Linked DNA regions of Homo sapiens. The protein of the gene in region 1 purifies or fractionates together with the protein of each later gene. This does not show direct contact. Each region holds a gene or a part of one and is shown in the gene's direction. Other genes may lie near its edges.

Region 1 (5,111 bases):
TGAAAGCTCTCTAACAATTAGATTTGTGGATTTGTGTTGTCACTTGTTAGAGAATATCGGTGGTTTATTAAAGTGTGAGAGCAAAGGGCTTCATGGTCAGAAAACTTGAGGAAGTGGTTAGCCAATATCAAATTAGTTTTTTTTAAAATTAGAATTATGTGATTTATTGTGTTTTGCTTTGTTTTGGAGTTTTATGTCAGCTTAAGCTTAACCTAGGAAGGCAAGTTGTGAAAGCAAGTAAATTTTTCTGAGCCCTAACTTGGAAGAGAAGCTTGTTTAACAGTGATTTGGGGTGTTGGCTTTGGAGTCAGACAGACTTAGATGAAAATATTAGCTATTTAACCTTTTTCAGTCTGATTTATAAGATGGGGATAATAATGGTCTCTATCTGTAGGGCTTTACAGAAAGTATATGAAAACTTTGTCTTTGGAAAACACTTAAACTGGACTTAACACGCAGTACATGGTCAAAATTATTAGATATTTATCTAGCTTGTTCAAGCAGCAGGCTACTGGATAAATTGCAGGGTGGCAGCTTGAACCTTCCGGAAATGCTAGATAGAGCAATTTCAAATTCTACAGAAAGTAACTGGTGTGTGTGTGTTTGTGTGTGTGTATGTGTGATGTTTCTACCACAGCAATATGAATAATTATGATTAAAGGATTAATAGTTTTAATATGCTTTTAGTGCTAAAGTTACAGTTGCATAGTAATTTTGACAGTCAGAAACATTGCATTATCCTTTACATTTAAAGAGAATTTATATTTCAAATAGTTGTGTTTATTAGCCCTAGGTAAGAAATTAAGCCAGGAACAGAAGTATTCATCTTTAACCAAGTGTAATTCTTAATCAAAGTATGAAAACATGTGACCCAAGGGTATCCGGTTATTTACTTTTGCATGTGCTGATGTCCAAGGCCAACAGATAAGCCATAAGAAGTGTTAGGCTGATTGTGAGTCGTTGTTTTATTTGTAAACTTTCATGAGATTGGGTGTTCAGTTAATTCAGGAAATCTACTCATCACATTGTTGACTCATTTCCTAAAATCTAAAAAATTTTTTAAATGCCTTCATCTTGCCAGGCGCTGTGGCTCACACCTATAATCCCAGCACTTTGGGAGGCCAAGGTGGGCGGATCACCTGAGGTCGGGAGTTCAAGACCAGCCTGACCCACATGGAGAAACCCCATCTCTACTAAAAATACAAAATAAACCAGGCGTGATGGCGCATGCCTGAAGTCCCAGCTACTCGGGATGCTGAGGCAGGAGAATCACTTGAACCCAGGAGGCGGAGGTTGCGGTGAATCGAGATCGTGCCATTGCACTCCAGCCTGGGCAACAAGAGCAAAAACTCTGTCTCAAAAAAAAAAAAAAAAAAAGCCTCCATCTTTAAAACAAACCCTTTAAAGCTTCTTGTTTTTGTCCTAATGCACGTCAGGTGCACAGAATTGGGCTGAACCAGGATCTTAGCTCATGCCACAGATGATTTCTCATTTTACTAATTGCTCCACTGGGACACAGAGATGTGGTTTATAATAATTTTAAATAACTATAAAGGGTACAGTGTGATTATTAATTGTTTCTTGCCTATGACATTATGCTCTGAAACAACTGAAGCATTTGATTGAGTAAATTATTGATTCGTTTCACTCCTAGAACATAACATAATGATTTCTGGCTCATACTTCTAGGTGAGTAGACTGTGAGCAAGTTACTTAATCTATGCTTCAATAAGTGTTGTGAGGAATAAATGAGCTAATCTATGTATATAGCATTTGGAATAGTGCCTGGTGCATAGTCCACATTCAATAAATGTTAACATTAAATTATTGAAATTTTCTCTAAATGTTGTATAATGAGCATGCATTATTTTTGTAACAGGAAAACAGCTATACAAAATTTTAATATTTCCCCCAAATCTAAAAAAAGCTCAGTAATTTAAATAGTCCTGCCAAATAGTACTTAAAAAGTAAGAGAATTAGACAATCATCATTTTGTCTTTTAAATGTGAAATGGTTTGCAATATTAATTTGTTAAACAAGTTAATTCTTCCAAATCTCAATTCCATTTTCTTTTTTATTAGAGACTTTAAAAAATCAGTAATACATGAAGTCTGTTACAGTTTAAAATGGGGAAAAGCAGTATGCACAGTTACATTGTGTTATTACAATTACAGCTAGCTTAAAAATTATTTTTAAACCATAAGAAAAGCCTAGAAGAAAATACAGACAAATTGGTGATGGGATTATGGTGCTCTCCCACCCCCAACCTGCTTTTCCCCTATTTTCCACAATGCGCCTATATATATACTAAAATATAATTCATTTGTGTAATAGTTACTAAACAAATCTGGTTTATTAACTACAAATACTAAAAAAAATTTGCGTAATAGTTACTAAAAAACAAATCTGGCTTGTTAACTACAAATAGCAGGATTTTATTGTTGTTTTGGAAAAAGCACCAACTTTATGGCAGTTGAATGTCCTTCGGTTAAATGTCAAAACCTTTGCAGTGAGAATTGTTTAGCGGTAAAAGAGAAGGCCTTTCAGAAGCTTGTAGTTTGATCTTCATGAAGAATATTTGAAAAGTCTACCAGTGGGTTTTTAGGATCTGCATATAGACCTAGTCCACCAACCTTGACTTTATGGAAGTTGTGACTTCCCAGATCCAGGCCTGCCTTGATGAGCTGCGTTTTTACAGCACCTTCAGTATATCAGACACCTGGAAGACAGTAATGAGGCAGATATTGGTGCACTTAGTTTAACAGGAAGGTTGGATAGATAAAAACTAATTACAGCACAATTGTATATATTATATATCCTGAGCCCTTTCTAAACTCTTCCCGTATACAGTCTTGCTCAGTTGTCACAACAGCCCAGAGGAGGAAGCTGAGGTTCCTTAAAGGTCTGAACCTTGCTCAAGTTGCAAGGACAGAATTTGACCCAGAAGCATCTTAACTCCACATCTCATGCCCTCTGCACGGAGATGGAGGTGCATCCAGCCAGAGGTGAGAGTGAAGTGGGCTTTATGGAGTCAGTTTTGCTTAAAAACTATAAAACTAATCAAGAGAAACATGAGGAGGAGACTCCTTTTAGGTGACCTTCCTGAGGAGAATCATCAGTGCCTCTCCATCAGGCTTGCCACTCTTTAGCCATAGCAGTTAACACTTCCAAATGGCTGCTGAGACCCAGCAGGCCTGAAGCGCACACAAAGGCCCAGTCCTTGGTGACCCTGTGAAGCCTACCTCTTTCATCCCTGGACTTCCAAAGGGGGTCTGGATAGTACAGATGAAGGAACTGACTCGCTAAATCCTGTTCTAGAACCAGCACATACCCACAGATCCTGACCTCCCCACTTTCCTCCCTTAGGAATGACAGGAGAGTAGTTAACAGGTAGCATGGATCCAGGGCAGATGGTGGAGGTGACTTGACTTAAGATAACTTGTAGCTAGATTATTCCATTTATTGGAGAGTCTCTCTTGAAAATCATATCTGATGTCACTTAAGTGTTTGGTTTATCATGTTAGTCTTTATTGGGTGTCGTAAAAGTGCTCAGTTGTGAAGTGTCTGGTTACCATCCTGTGACAAGGAGGGTTTTTGTCTTCTTTTAATGGGTCTGCATTTCAGAGAATTACTGTATAATAAAAACTGGAGTGTTGGCTGGGTGCAGTCGCTCACGCCTGTAATCCCAGCACTTTGGGAGGCCGAGGCGGGTGGATCACAAGGTCAGGAGAGCGAGACCATCCTGGCTAACATGATGAAACCCCGTCTCTACTAAAAATACAAAAAATTAGCCGGGCGTGGTGGCGGTCGCCTGTAGTCCCAGCTACTTGGAAGGCTGAGGCAGGAAAATGGCGTGAACCTGGGAGGCAGAGCTTGCAGTGAGCCGAGATCGTGCCACTGTACTCAAGCCTGGGCAACAGAGCAAGATGCCATCTTAAAAAAATAAAAAAAAAAACTGGAGTGTTGGAGACTGTTAAGAATTAATACTTTCAGTTCTGCCAGAGGGTTAGTATCTAGAAGTTCTAAGAGATTGGTTGCTAAAATCTTCTGTAATTTTCAGTTTCATTGATTGTATAATAAGTGGGTGACTTTGGGCCCAGAGAGTCAGAAGGCTTTGTATTCTGTATGCTTTCTGACACAGTAGGCCACCACTCCCCTTGCAGGCAAGGTCATGTAATTGACATAGGATCCCCTTTAGTTGACCGAAGAGAGAAGTATAAGCTCTGGTTGAACTTGAGTTTGCGTGATCACACATGCTCACTGGAGTGAAGTCTGAATCAGTTGCCATCTCTGCACTTGCATTGTGTGTAGAGAATTGTCTTGATTCAGAATGGCTTTGTGCAAACTCACATGAGCCCATTGGAGGCAGAATCTTAACTTCATTGATGTGAAATAATCAGGCTTTTATTTAGCTTCAGATGGCACTAGCCAAGACGTCCTTGACCACTGGACACTAAACCCTTAACTCCCCACTGGGACCCTTTGACTCAGACCCCAAGCTTGCAGTTACCTCAAATTTTGTGTTGTTTTGGGGGGATAAATTATTGCAGAGGAAAAACATAAGGTTTTTTCTCAAATGAAGACTCAAACTGAAATCCATTAAATCCCAACATGAGCTAAATCTAAGGGTGGAAAGAGGAATCAAAATCTAAAAGCCTCTTGGACTTTATTGAGGCTTATTGAAGACCTTATTGAGATAACATCATCATACCAAGTTTAACCAGAATCTCAGGCAAATTAGAAAGGTGTAACCTTTAGACTAGGTGCCTGAGCTGTGCCTAGACTAATGAAATCTTCTGAATTATTAGACCATGGCCTGCACATTAGACCATGGGGCTTCATGTGGGTATATAAGGTCATGATTGGCTGTGCAGATAAGTTGTCATGGGAGGGTTGGATGTCTGGCCAAGAAGCAGAAGGAATGGATTGTGACTTCTTGACAGGGATACCTTGAACTGTTATACAGGTTGTTCACTGCACAAAAGTGCCTGGGCAAGGAGGCAAATGGGAGGCTCACATCTGCTAAACAAACAAAACCACATGCATCCTGGAGTAGGATTGCCTCTGCTAGGAGAAAAGGGAACTTCTTTCTGATGCTATCAAGCCTGCAA
Region 2 (3,500 bases), about 44 Mb from region 1:
ATTCAAGAAATTTATATATTTATAATTGCATATTTTTTAAATCATAGGAGCAATTTACAGCAATGAGGGATTTGTATATGAAGAACGGCCAAGGTTTTGCACTAGTATATTCTATTACAGCTCAGTCCACGTTTAACGACTTACAGGACCTGAGGGAACAGATTTTACGGGTTAAGGACACGGAAGATGTAAGTATTTTTTCTCTCTGTAAGATGTTATGCCATCTCTCTGTGGCCAAATAAAAAAGTGCCTGTTTTCTCTATTAGTAGAGGATTTGGAAGCTATCTACCACATGCCTGAAAGAGCCCCTGTGACCAAAAGAAAAAAATTTAACTTTCAAAATTAACCTCAAAATTATGTGGTGAGATGTTTAGAAAATGAGGACATATGTGATAAAGTACTCATTGTGCTATAGGTTAAAAAGTGCAGTAGAGGAAAAAGAGGAGCCAAAGAATACTTCATAGAAGTGGGACCTGAGTTGAGCTTTGAAAGGTGATGGTTGTGTCAGAAACAGTGTTCAAAGAACATTATTAAGATCCATAGTGGTGTGTTTTTATTTCTAAAATTCCATTGGTATAATTCACACATCACAGTCTACCTCCCGGGCTCAAGTGATCTTCCCACCTCAACCCCCTGAGTAGTTGGGACTACAGGTGTGTGCCACCCTGCCTGGCTGATTGTTTTTGAATTTTTTAGTAGAGACCAGGTCTCACTATGTTACCCAGGCTTGTCTCAGGCTCCTGAGCTCAAGCAGTCCTCCTACCTCAGCCTCCCTGGGATTACAGGCATGAACCATTGTGCCTGGCCAGGATTATATTCTTAAAATAATTTGGCATATCTATGTAGTAGGATCTCTTCCATTTTTTTTTTTTTTTTGTCTCTTCCTTCTTCCTTCGCCTCTTCCCCTCAACATATACTTTTCGTTAGTATTTGATGAAGCTTGCGGTCCCAACTAATGCATTTCAGTTGGTGGCAGATAATTGCTTATTTATTTTTTTAAAAGGCTAAGTAATGAGTATGTTATTGTTCATTTTACGTTTTTTTCTTCCCACAGGTTCCAATGATTTTGGTTGGCAATAAATGTGACCTGGAAGATGAGCGAGTAGTTGGCAAAGAGCAGGGCCAGAATTTAGCAAGACAGTGGTGTAACTGTGCCTTTTTAGAATCTTCTGCAAAGTCAAAGATCAATGTTAATGAGGTAACCTACAACTGCTGGGCAGCACAAACAAGTGCCTTTTTAGTTTGCTTTAAGTTAACAGCCAGACTTTTAAGAAAAAATTTTTATCTTTTAAGCAATCTTGATTCCATAATTTTATAGGAAACACTAAGTAATTCCTGGAAACTATATTTTTTAGCTTGCATAAGGTCACTTTGATGGCTGTATGAGGATACTTAAATTTACCTTATTGTAAAAGAGGAAGCTAAAATTGAAGAATGTGTGTAAAATCCTGCTAAGCCTCTAAGTGATATGCGATAAAGTGGTGTGTAAAAATTGTTACATCACCTTATATTGTAATAATTATTTACCCAAATGTATATAAATAGGTTGTAAAGTCAAGTTGGAAAATAATATGTTTTTATGGATATCACAGAATTGTGTTCTGAGTCTTACCTCACCTTTGGTGCATGACTCATAAGTGGGTAATCTGTGTGGGTATGGACATGTACCTGGAATTCACTCAGTCCTTTAGGCCTGATACAGCTGATGCACAAGGCTTTTGTGTGGGGCATGGGGGTGGGGTCACTGGGTTAAGCACTCCACTATCTTGAAAACAGCTGTGGACAAGAATACTTAGCAAATAAGCTGCATGCCTGGGTGTAAAGGGCCAACAGTTTACTAGTTTACTGGGCCCCTAAAAATTTAGAGCAATTTCCAACTGTCCCCACCAGTCAACCTTAAATAGTTCCCTTGCTTTTGTTAACCTTAACATAAGCCTTTTAAAAAAATAAAAACAACAGAGTGGGCTTCTTTCCTGCCGTTGCTTTTGCCATTTGTAGCATTACAGGTAATCAGTCAGAATTCAGATCACTTAACTACATAGGTGAGAGTGAGAGTGGGTTAAGTTATGAGTCCTCTGTTTTTGCTATTCTCTCTGGCCTGTGGTTCTGCTGGCCACTTTTTCTTGACTAATATTATGCTTATAGACTATTTGACTTTTAAAAATGACCAGGTTACTTTAAACACCTGGCAGGTAAAAAAAAATTAAGCTTGCTTCAACTTCTGTATTTTACAGATAATCAAGAATGCCAAAGCTTGTTTTTTTATGTGAAACCATTTTTAACAAGTACATAAAAACAAGAAATTTATAAATTGTATTTATTCAGCAAATATTTATTGACTATTGTGTGTCTGGCACTGTGTCAGGCCCTCAGGTAACAGTCACTCAGACAGACACTATTCCTGCCCTGAAGAAGTTTGCATCCTACTGGGGGAACAAGTCTTTCAGCAATAATTAAAGAAAAAAAGTGATTTTGATAAAGAATTTGTTAGAAATTGTGAATATGTTTGGCTAGCAGAACAGTGACATGAGGTCACTATCTACAAGATAATTGGCCTTACGGGATGTGGTTCCTTGCTGTCCTTGTCCTTACCTCCATGGGACCCACCAACCAAGTTCATCAGACTCCAGGCTCCGGTGGGGCTGGGTTGGGCCTGAGTCCAGTGCATAGGACTTCTCCCTTTGGGAGCCAGAGGACAGTACACTACATGTTTGTGAGAACCTACATGCTATTAAACTTCCTCTGGATTAGTTTCCAATGCAGCAGAGATACTTTTTCATAGCAGTCTTGTTAAAGCAGAGAGTTTATAAACGAGGGTTTATAAAAACAAACATAGAAAAACCATAAAATGAAATGCATTAGCCATCTCAAGAATCTTTACTTTTTGGAAAACATACAAACTTTATGCTCAGTTCTTGAGAGTGGGGAGAATGGAGCAGATAATTTGAGTTTCTTTTAATATTTTTCTCTTTATAACCCAATAATCCAGCTACAGGATTTCTTTGGTAGTTAATAGTTCCTCACACAACTTTTGCCTTGTAAATTTTTTTGTGAGTTTTGAATGCCTGAAGTATAGAGAGATACTTTCAAAAATTCACCTCTTGGCCTTAAATTTGAAAACAGACACCAGGACATACTGCTTGGCTAAAGAGCCCCCTAATTCATTCATATATATATATATATAATTTTTCAAAAACTCTTATTCACACCACTTTGCAACGTTCTTAAAGTAGTATATGGCTATGCCAGAATCACAGTAGTCTTAATCAAGAATTAATTGTTCTTTGCTGAGGCTGGAATAGTAATTGGAATCAAGACAACCCAATTTAGGAATGGGAGAGGGATTGAGAAACTCTATTCTGTGTTCCCTTTAGATTTTTCTATAGTTCAGAGAGATGAGGAAGAACCTAGGCTGGGGCCTTTCAGCATTTCTAACCAAATATTATAGTTCGAACTTGCCCTCATCACTGAACCATCTGCTGCTGTGAGGTAGGCAATGT
Region 3 (5,404 bases), on another chromosome or scaffold:
CCTCCCCCTCTCCTCATTCATCCGGACTCCTTTTTCTAACCCTTCTCAATCTTCCCCCATTCCTCATCTCCTCTTCCTCTGTCTCCCTGTTCCACCTCTCTCCTGGTCTCCTTCCTTCCCCTTCTGCTGTTTCTCCCTCCCTCCTCCTCCCTTCCCATTCCCCTTCCCCCAGCACTTCCTTTTCTCCCCATCTCCTCCCCATTCCCCTTCCCCCAGCTCTTTCTTTTCTCCCCATCTCCTCCCCATCCATAGGCAGCCCCCACTCATATAGCAAATTAGTAATTCTCATCAGTTAGAGCTTCGTCTGGGCTAGTGGTTCTCAAACTTTTTGGTCTTAGGATCTCTGTACACTTTTTTTTTTTTTTTTTTTTTACGTGGAGTTTTGCTCTTGTTGCCCAGGCTGGAGTGCAGTGGCGCGATCTCGGGCTCACTTCAACCTCCGCCTCCTGGGTTCAAGCGATTCTCCTGCCTCAGCCTCCCGAGTAGCTGGGATTACAAGGCATGCACCACCACGCCCGGCTAATTTTGTATTTTTAGTAGAGACCAGGTTTCTCCATGTTGGTCACACTGGTCTCGAACTCCCAACCTCAGGTGATCCTCCCACCTTGGCCTCCCAAAGTGCTGGGATTACAGGTGTAAGCCACCGTGCCCAGCCTACACCCTTAAAAGTTATTGAGGACCCCAAATAACTTGCTCATTGTGGATTGTATCTATCCATATTTATTGTATTAGAAATTAAGACTGAGAAAAAGTTATAAAACACAAGAATACAGATGCACACGTTCCATTAGCCATCAAGGTGATCTTTCTCCCATGCCAGTAGTCTCTGGAAAATTCCTGAGAGGATGAAAATAAAAAAATCACCCATACAAAAAAAAAAAGTGTCAATATTATTATGAAAATAGTTTTGACCGTGAGGACCCCCTGAAAGGGTCTCAGGGACCCTCGGGGGCCCTGGATCTTGCTTTGAGAACAGCTGATCTGGGCTAATGAGCCCTTTTCCAGCCCCTCTGTGTGAGACCTCCCAGAAACCACTAAGGGCCTTGGAAGAGCTTGGCAAAGAAAGAGGTGACAGGATGATTGAGGAGAGCCACCCTAGGGAAAGCCTTCAGAGGAGGCTTTGGGACAGCCCCGGTCGGTGGAGGAAGTCCCAGAGAGGCAGTCGGAAGGGCTAGGGACCAGCTGAGGCCTGTGACCTGAAAATCCTTTCAAAAGAGGACGCCTGGAAGCCTGGGGAAGGCACAGTGGGTGGGGTAGAAGACTGGGGCTGAGGCCCAGGCCATTCCCAAGCCTGGAAGAGCTGATTGAGTGGGGATTTGTAGATCTTCATTTCCCAAACTTGCCTGCTGAGAAGAATCGTCCCACCCATGGCAGGTTCCTGCACTGCGCCTTCAGGGCCCTGCCCTGAGATCTGGACTGGGCGGGCCTGAGGTGGGCCAGGAAATCTGAGCCGGAGGCCCACTGGGGAGGCCGCGAGTGAATCTTGTCTCTGTGGATCCTTTGTAAGGATTGCCATGCTAAACCACTTGCCCTCTCATCCGTGACCGGAGAGAATTGGGTCACTCTTCCAGACATACCACAGACTCCTGCTTCTAGACAGCACTTGGCTGGAGCCAGGCTGGCCTTCAGGGTTGGTCAGTCTCCACAGGGGACTCTGGCCTCCCGTGGGCTGCCACAGGGCCAACCCCAGTGAAAGAAATGAAATGACTGAATATGTTCATGTCATTAGAAAAAGGATGCAGCAGGGGGTGGGGAGGAGTTGGTTAATGGAATCAAATTTGCAGCAAGATAGGAGTCTAGTGTTTGGCGGCACTGTAGGGTGACTATCGCTAACAATAATTTACTGTGTATTTTCAAGTAGCTAGAAGAGAGAATTTTGAATGTTCCTGTCAACCTAAATAACAAAGACAGGCTCGCTAAAGATATTTAATCAAAAGTAGGGCATTGCAACAGGAATATGTGTGCTGTAGTAAACTGTGTGCATATTCCAGGAGGTAAAGAAAAACAAAGGTGACTGGGCGCGGTGGCTCACGCCTGTAATCCCAGCACTTTGGGAGGCCGAGGCGGGTGGATCACGAGGTCAGGAGATCGAGACCATCCTGGCTAACACGGTGAAACCCTGTCTGTACTAAAAAAAAATATATATATATATTAGCTGGGCGTGGTGGCAGGTGCCTGTAGTCCCAGCTGCTCGGGAGGCTGGGGCAGGAGAATGGCATGAACCCAGGAGGTAGAGCTTGCAGTGAGCCGAGATGGCACCACTGCACTCCAGCCTGGGCGACAGAGCGAGACTCTGACTCAAAAAAACAAAGAAAAAAAAAAAGAAAAACAAAGGTTTTTAAAGGAAAAAATGAGGAGGATTACATAATGGTTTTGAAATAATTATCCTTGGCTACAAATATCAATAACAAAGGTCACACCAGTCCGAGGTTGGACAGGCAGTTGCTAGGCAGATGTCTTTGCAGAAGTAATTTTTGTGTGAGGTTGCAGCAGCCTATGTGCAAGGTTGTAATTTTTGCAGAATCTTTTGTGATCATTTTTGGTATTAGGCATACAAGCATGAGAATCCCCTCTTCATGGCCTCCCCAGCTCTATTTGTCATGGTTTGTTTTTTTAAAACACTAGTGACTCTATTTGAATTCTAACAACTTTCACATTCCCAACACAAATGATAGACATTTAAGGGATTAATATGCTAATTACCCTGATCATTACACATTGTATACATGTATCAAAATAACACACTGTACCCCATAAATACATACAATTATGTGTCAATTAAAGATCATTATTTTTAAAAATAGGACCAGAAAAAAAGATGCAGACCCTCTAGTAAGGAGATGGGATCAGGAGTGATTCCATGGTTAATTTAACCCACATAAACAACTAATCGTAAGTATGGTATGAGCGTTTATGTAAAGACTGTGACAACAGGAAATGTCTGTCTTTGAACCCAAGGTTATCTAACCAGCACACCAATGGTGAAAGATTAACTTTGTCAGAAACCAGGAACCATGAAGCAGAGGTCACTGTTTCCAACCTGTGTGTTTTCCACGGTAATTGGCAGCCTCCCCAAGGGAAATTAAAACATATGTCCACACAGAAATTTGAATGCAAATGTTCATAGCAGCATTACTCATAATAGCCCAAAGCTGAAACAGCCCCAATGTTCCACAGTGGATGAATCGATGAACAAAATATGGCGCATCCACAGAATGGAATACAAAGAAAGAAAGCGTGGACACATGCTGCAACATGGATGAACCTTGAAAATATTGTGCCAGGGGAAAGAAACCAGAGACAAAGAGCCACATGTTGTAGGATTCCATGTATATGAAAGGTCCTAATAAGCAAACTCATAAAGACAAAAAGCAGATTGGTGGTCACTTAGGGCTAGGGTGAGGAGTGACGGTTAGTGGGCACTGAGTTTCTCCGGGGGGAACTGAATTAGATGGTGGTGATTGCACAATTCTGTGAATAGACTAAAAACCACTGGACTGTAAGAGGGTGAATTTTTTGGTATATGAATTACATCTCAATAAAGCTGTTACTTAAAACGTGGAAAAAATAATAAGCAGTCACTAGCTATTCTCAATAAAACAGAAACCACATAGGTAAGACCAATATTGTCACATTTTGGTTTTGGCTGATAATGGGGCAAGTGAGCATAGTCACCGTTGCCAGAGGATTTACCATTTACAAATAAAAGTTTCTGTGGAGTGACAACCTTTTACTGTGTGCCAGGTACTGTGCTAAGCACTTTGTATATACCGATTCATGTAATCCTTGTGACAGCCCCGTGATGCCCCATTTTTAGATGGGGAGATTGAGGTTAGGAGAGTTGAATAACTTGCCCATAGCTGCACAGCTTCCAAGTTGCAGAGACAGGATTTTCACCGAGTCTTATTACAAACTGCCTCATATTGTGTGGACTGGAAATTCTATGTTGAGGTTAATTTATTCATTTGTTGTTTAGTTCTTTTCATCATTGTTGAGTTACCAATGGCAGTTCCAGAGGATTTATCATTTACCCCAAAGCTACTGCAAATCTAAGAGAAAACAATGTTCTTGCTGCTAAAGTTTAATGTACAAAAAGGTAAAATCATGACTGTCTTGCAAATAAAACATGAACATGTATCCAAGCTTTTAACTCACTGATTAATAAGGAAACCAGTAAGACGTCAAAACCAGTTCAAATGGGAATTTGATGTACAGAAATTTATATTCTAACAACACTTATTTAGTTCACTGTAAGAAATCATTTGCTTTGGCAGATTAGGCACTCAGCAGAAGCACCAGCCAGCTCAGCCTTTGGAGGGAGAATTCCATGTTGTTGGACCCATACATATCCTCTGTCCCTGCTGCCAAGAGCTCTTTGTTCATCGGCCCGTTGAGCAGACACCACAGCAGCTGCATAGAGAGGCTGGCTGACAGCCACAGAGCATGTAATTCTGTCCATCTGATTCAGGGTCTTCTCTGCAGTGGATGCCCTTTGGTGGGCATTCAGGTGAGATGCAGATATCTTCAGTCTGCCCATTCGGAGGGATTCAGCCACATATCTCTTTCCAAGATTTTCTTGTCACCAATCTTCCAGTCCTGTTCTTTTTAAGGCCCTGACCATCCAGCTAAACCATCAGCGACTGTCCATGAATCAATTTAGGTCTGTATTCTGGCCATCTCTCACTCCAGACATAGTGGACAGCCTTGAGTTTCTGCTCACTGGAAGGATTCTCCTTCACCACTGCCCTTCACAGTCACCCCTGAGTGAGTGTGAGTGAATACTGCAGCTGTTCTCTTTCATGTGGTACCAGCACATCATACAGACCCATCTATAATCCAGGCTGGAGGTTTTTCTCCCTCAGTCAACTGGACATAGGCAGCATCCCAAGAAGCCATAGTTGTAGAATGAGGGAGAGGAGGCAAAGCAACAGGAGTTGATGTTGGAAGAGTCTGAGCCGCCTGCTCATACAATTTACTTATACCTTCTGAACCTGCCTGGGCTGTTTCTAATACACCATTTCCATTTGATGATAGGTGGCTGCTGTATACATCCAATTTTATGGCTACGTAGGTCAGATGACATCCAGTTCATGATGGGAGCTCAAGCTTCATGGTCAGGCATTCTGCCTCTATCAAGGCCTAGTAGCAAGGCAGAACCTGCTTCTCAGAAGGAGAGTAGTTATCTTCAGAAGAGGTTCTAGATTTACTTTAGAATTCTAGAGGTCTGTACTCTCTCCTGTCAGTGCTTGCCAGAGGCTCCATACAGCATCCCTGTTGGACAAAGTCCCACTGGATCTGTTGGATCACAAGACCCAAGTGGTAGGGCAGCTTTACTGCAGCCTGAACCTTCTGCAGAGTCTTCTCTTATTCTGCTCCTCAATCCACCAGCCTGTCAATTGGGTTG
Region 4 (5,111 bases), on another chromosome or scaffold:
AGTCAAGTGGGACCCAATTAAACTAAGGAGCTTCTGCACAGCAAAAGAAACTATCAACAGAGTAAACAGAAAACCTACAGAATTGGAGAAAATATTTGCAAACTATGCAGCTGAAAAGGTCTAACACCGAGACTCTATAAGGAACTTAAATCAACAAACAAATAACAATCAATCCCATTAAAAAATGGGCAAAGGACATGAACAAACGCTTCTCAAAAGAAGACTTACACGTGGTCAACAAGCATATGAAAAAACGCTTGATATTACTAATCATTAGAGAAATGCAAATCACAACTACAATGAGATACCATTTCATACCAGTCAGAATGGCTGTTATAAAAAAAGTCAAAAAACAACAGATGTTGGTGAGATTGTGGAGAAAAGGAAATGCTTACACACTGCTAGTGGGAATGTAAATTAGTTCAGCCACTGTGGAAAGCAGTTTGTATATTTCTCAAAGAACTTAAAATTAGAACTACCATTCAACCCAGCAATCCCATTACTGGGTATATACCCAAAGGAATATAAATTATTCTGCCATAAAGACACATGCACACGTATGTTCATCACAGCACTTTTCACAATAATGAAGACATGGAATCAACTTAGATGCCCATCAGTGGTGGACTGGATAAAGAAAATATGGTACATATACATAATGGAATACTATAAAGCCATAAAAAAGAATGAAATCATATCCTTACAGCAACATAGATGCAGCTGGAAGCCATCCTAAATGAATTAATGCAGGAACAGAAAATCAGATACCATATGTATCCTTTAAGTGGGAGCTACACATTGAGTACACATGGACACAAAAAAAGGGACAATGGACATGGGGGCTTACTTAAGGGTGGTGGGTGGGAGGAGGGTGACGACTGAAGAACTGTCTGTTCGGTACTATGTCCACTACTTGGGTGATGAAATCGTTTGTACACGAAACCCCAGTGACATGCAATTTACCCATGTAACAAACCTGCATATATGTACCCCGAACCTAAAAAGTTGGAAGAATAAAAATAAATTAACTTTAAAATATAATATAATTAGCTACATTGTATACTACTTTTATCAGATATCAAAAAGAATAAAATTCTTCTATGGGACTAATTTAATAAAGATCTTTTAACTAGATATGTATATATAGATAGGCATAGAAAAATCAAATAGAAAGGAGGTGGATGAACTACAAGTGAGAGGATAACTAAGGAGGCTCACTGAGGAAGAGAGCTACTCTCATCTGTAGAAAAGCCCTGACAGTTTCTCTCTTTAACTCAAAATGCCTATATCTAGTTGCTTCCCTTTGAACATCACTGTCTGCATCTTCCTAGGTGCCTGAAAATCATTATGTCAAAAACTCAACATTTTTTTCCTAAAGTCTTCTCTGCCAGTTAGGTTTCCTGTTTTAATTATTGATATCCTACCCACTTACAGATAGAAACTTGATGTCTTCATTCTGTACTTCCCATAACCACATATTCAGTGGGTTACCTGTAGAGGCTGAACCTGTCACCTAAGTCCTTCTTGCTTTCATCATCTCCTTTTATCTGTAAAAATTGATCCCTTCACCTGAGTGCCTACCTTTTGAAGGGTATGAGTATGGAGTGCTTAAGGAAGGTGTAAGGGTACTCATTATTGGCCAACCATATCAGCTGAATCAAACCCAGATATAGGGAATAAAGGAAAAATGCAATATTCTTAGCTTTCTGTCTTTGGCAACAAGAAGGTAGCATAAGTAAAGAAGATGGTTTTATCTTAGAACACTGTAAGATGCAAGGCAGATAAGACAAAGATGGCAAGGGAACGATAGTCTGGGCAAGTGGGAAGGGAGTAAAAAGAGGCTGTTAATTGAAATATAATAGATATATTTTTGTAAAAAGGGAGAGATGAAAACTGCAAAACATTGCTGAAGGACATTAAAGAAGACACAAATAAATGCAGAGAAATTCTGTGTTCATGGATTAGAAGTTAGAGAAACGCAAATCAAAACCACAGTGAAATATCACCCCACATCCATTAGGATGGCTAATATTTTAAAACCTCAGAAAATAAGTGTTGTTGAGGATATGGAGAAGTTGAAATCCTGGTGCACTGGTGGTGGGAATGTGAAATTGTGTAGCCACTATAGAAAACAGTATGGCAATTTCTCAAAAAATTATAAATAGATTACCATATAATCCAGAAATTCCTCTTCTGGAAGTATATCCAAAATAACTGAAATCAGGAACTCAAAGAGATATTTGCACACCAATGTTGATAACACGATTATTCGCAATAGCCAAAAGGTGAAAGCAATCTAAGGTACATTGGTAGATGAATGGATAAGCAAAATGTGTGTGCATACAATGGAATATTATTTAGCTTTAAAAAGGCAGGATATTCTGACACATACTACAATATAGATGAACCTTAAGGACATTATGCTAAGTGAAATCAGTCAGTCACAAAAAGATAAATACTGTATTGATTTCACTTATATGATATACCTACAGTAATCAAATGTACAGGAACTGGAAGAAGAATGGTGATTGCCAGGGGCTGGTAAAAGGAAGAAACAAGGAGTTATTGTTAATAGTTGTAGAGTTTCCATTTTATCAAATGAAAAAATTCTGGAGATTGGTTATACAACAATGTGAGTTCAACACTACTGAACTGTATACTTAGAATAGTATTTTTTTGTGGTTATAATAGTAAATTTTGTGGGTTTTTAACCACAATCTTTTAAAATGTGAAAAATAGAAGACTAAGAAGCTATGATCTCAGTGGAAACTAAAAGTATAGAGCATCTTTAAATGGAAGATGAAGAAAACTCCCATTACATGTCTCTTCTGTGTCAGGTGCTTTGTGTAGTATGGCTCATTTAAAAACCACATGATAATGTAATTTATTATTTCTGGACTTTGAAAAATATACAAACTAAATCTGCTCACTTTTAACTTAGACATAAATTCAGGTGAAATTTTTTATGTTTTGACTTCTCTTATCTCTTTTTATTCCTATTTACCAGGTTGGAAAGGTACTTTGTTGGGTGTTGCTATGGCTACAGTGAATGCTATGATAGCAGAATATGGCTGCAGTTTGGAAGACATTGTTGTTGTACTTGGACCTTCAGTAGGACCTTGCTGTTTTACTCTTCCAAGGGAATCAGCAGAGGCATTTCATAATCTTCATCCTGCATGTGTACAACTATTTGATTCACCAAATCCCTGTATCGACATCCGTAAAGCCACAAGGTATGTCTGATTTCATTCAACTGCAAGTTTGATTATTTCTGATTGTTCTAAAATGAAATTTATTTTGGAGAACAATTAATAACTCTAAGAAGAATTTAGGTGGTGGTTATTTAAGCAGCTGACATGCACATGTACACAAACACTCATTTTAAATATGAAATCTGTTTTCATTTGAGTTTGAATAACAGAAATTTTCCTGTCTGGTATCTTTCATTGATTTAAAAGTGAAGGAAGAAATATTTGGCATTTAATTTTAAGAGATCTACTTAAACTTCATATAGAAAAGTTGGCGTGTACTTTACTTCACAGCCATTCCTCAGCTAAATTCTCCTAAATGTAATGAACTATCAGGAAGCTGATATTTTAAAATTATTCTTATTATCTAATTAACTAGAGGAATATGTTTTTTAGAAAAAATATTAGATAATATAAATACACGGTTTTTTACTTTTAAGTTTTTTACAGTTCTTCGCATCTTTTAATTTACAAGGTTTTGTTATTAATAACTGGTGAAAATTATTTGTCATTACTACAAAGGCAAATTAATGTATGTTTTAAATCATGTTTCTATTCCAGTCGCCAAAACTTTACCCAGAGTCTGCCTCATTTAGTACAGATGTGGAAAAGTTTGAAATTGATTCTTAAATGTGACTTTTAAAATCAAGTATCACTAACTTGTAGTCATATTTCATATCATAAAGTGTTCATGGAGAAGCAAGTTTTCTGAGAAAAATCTGGCTAATAGAAGGAAAGGAGATGAAGGGCCAGATGACTAAAAAGCATACTCTGGCTGAGCCAGGTGAATTTTGCCTGATATCCTGGTAACTTTTGTAGACATTTCTTCTTAAATAAGCACTTGATTTTGATTATAAAATTCTGTACCTAGATTATGTCTATAAGACAATATGGAAGGTTGTACTGTGCATATATGAACTTAGGTGATAAATGCTGATAAAGTGTAGCATTTTTTTCCCTGACTAGTCCATGTTCTGTAAGTGAATAACAATATACATTGTTCTAGGTACATCTTTCCTGGAACTTTTTCATGCCAACATCCATACTTTTTTTCATATTGCTTTGGCTATTGGGAAAATAAACTCTTGCTCTCTTTTGAAAAATATTTTTCCTAAGGATTCTTCTAGAACAGGGAGGAATTCTTCCACAGAATATTCAGGACCAGAACCAAGATCTCAACCTCTGTACATCTTGCCATCCTGACAAGTTTTTCTCCCATGTCCGAGATGGCCTTAATTTTGGTACACAGATTGGCTTCATATCAATTAAAGAATGAGGTACAGTAGGTTTTCTCTCCTCTCTCCGTTTTTCCTCTCTTTCATCCCTCTCTCCACTTCTCCCTCCCTTTCTCTTTCTTCCTCTTTTAGCCTATTCCTCCCCTTATTTAAAAAAAAAAAGTTAATTATGTTAAACTTTACTCCTTTATTCCTACAGGGAGAATGATGTTTCTACTTTTTTAGTGATGTAATAGTGGTAGCAACGTTCATTTCCAATAACACTCTATTATGAAGAGCAGCCACTCCTTTTCCTAGTTAATGAAGAATAATTAGGCAGGCTTATGTTAAAAGTATAAAAATAAAACAATTTAATCTTTAAAAAGGTATGTAAGTATTTCCTTTCTCTCTACTATGTACTTGATATCTGTACATTCCCTATCCTCACATCCTTATAACTTTCATGTTATTTTTGAAAACAAATCTTTGCATAAACATTCTGAATTCTAGAATCATAAGAAATTCTCACAAAGAAACTAGCTTGATTTTCAACTAGATTTCCAAATGATTATCTGCAGTTGGAGTTGCCCAAATTTTTATTTTAAAATGACAGTAAGTAGTTTAGACTTTGTGGGACATACAGTATATC

The links.
Region 2: the proteins of GNG12 (region 1) and RAP1A fractionate together in Homo sapiens (co-fractionation; one large-scale study listed by BioGRID). This does not show direct contact.
Region 3: the proteins of GNG12 (region 1) and GNB5 purify together in Homo sapiens (co-immunoprecipitation; one large-scale study listed by IntAct). This does not show direct contact.
Region 4: the proteins of GNG12 (region 1) and LACC1 purify together in Homo sapiens (affinity purification with mass spectrometry; one large-scale study listed by BioGRID and IntAct). This does not show direct contact.

The regions. Positions count from the first base shown.
Region 1 is NC_000001.11:67,826,269-67,831,379, reverse strand, and holds part of GNG12 (guanine nucleotide-binding protein G(I)/G(S)/G(O) subunit gamma-12), read left to right. Parts: intron 1-5,111. UniProt on the Homo sapiens protein: Guanine nucleotide-binding proteins (G proteins) are involved as a modulator or transducer in various transmembrane signaling systems.
Region 2 is NC_000001.11:111,703,289-111,706,788, forward strand, and holds part of RAP1A (ras-related protein Rap-1A precursor), read left to right. Parts: intron 1-47; coding exon 48-188; intron 189-1,054; coding exon 1,055-1,198; intron 1,199-3,500. UniProt on the Homo sapiens protein: Counteracts the mitogenic function of Ras, at least partly because it can interact with Ras GAPs and RAF in a competitive manner. Together with ITGB1BP1, regulates KRIT1 localization to microtubules and membranes.
Region 3 is NC_000015.10:52,113,838-52,119,241, reverse strand, and holds the end of GNB5 (guanine nucleotide-binding protein subunit beta-5), read left to right. Parts: 3' UTR 1-4,142; downstream 4,143-5,404. UniProt on the Homo sapiens protein: Enhances GTPase-activating protein (GAP) activity of regulator of G protein signaling (RGS) proteins, such as RGS7 and RGS9, hence involved in the termination of the signaling initiated by the G protein coupled receptors (GPCRs) by accelerating the GTP hydrolysis on the G-alpha subunits, thereby promoting their inactivation.
Region 4 is NC_000013.11:43,885,750-43,890,860, forward strand, and holds part of LACC1 (purine nucleoside phosphorylase LACC1), read left to right. Parts: exon of another isoform or gene 1-1,041; intron 1,042-3,007; coding exon 3,008-3,233; intron 3,234-4,364; coding exon 4,365-4,524; 3' UTR 4,525-4,525; exon of another isoform or gene 4,526-4,530; intron 4,531-5,111. UniProt on the Homo sapiens protein: Purine nucleoside enzyme that catalyzes the phosphorolysis of adenosine, guanosine and inosine nucleosides, yielding D-ribose 1-phosphate and the respective free bases, adenine, guanine and hypoxanthine.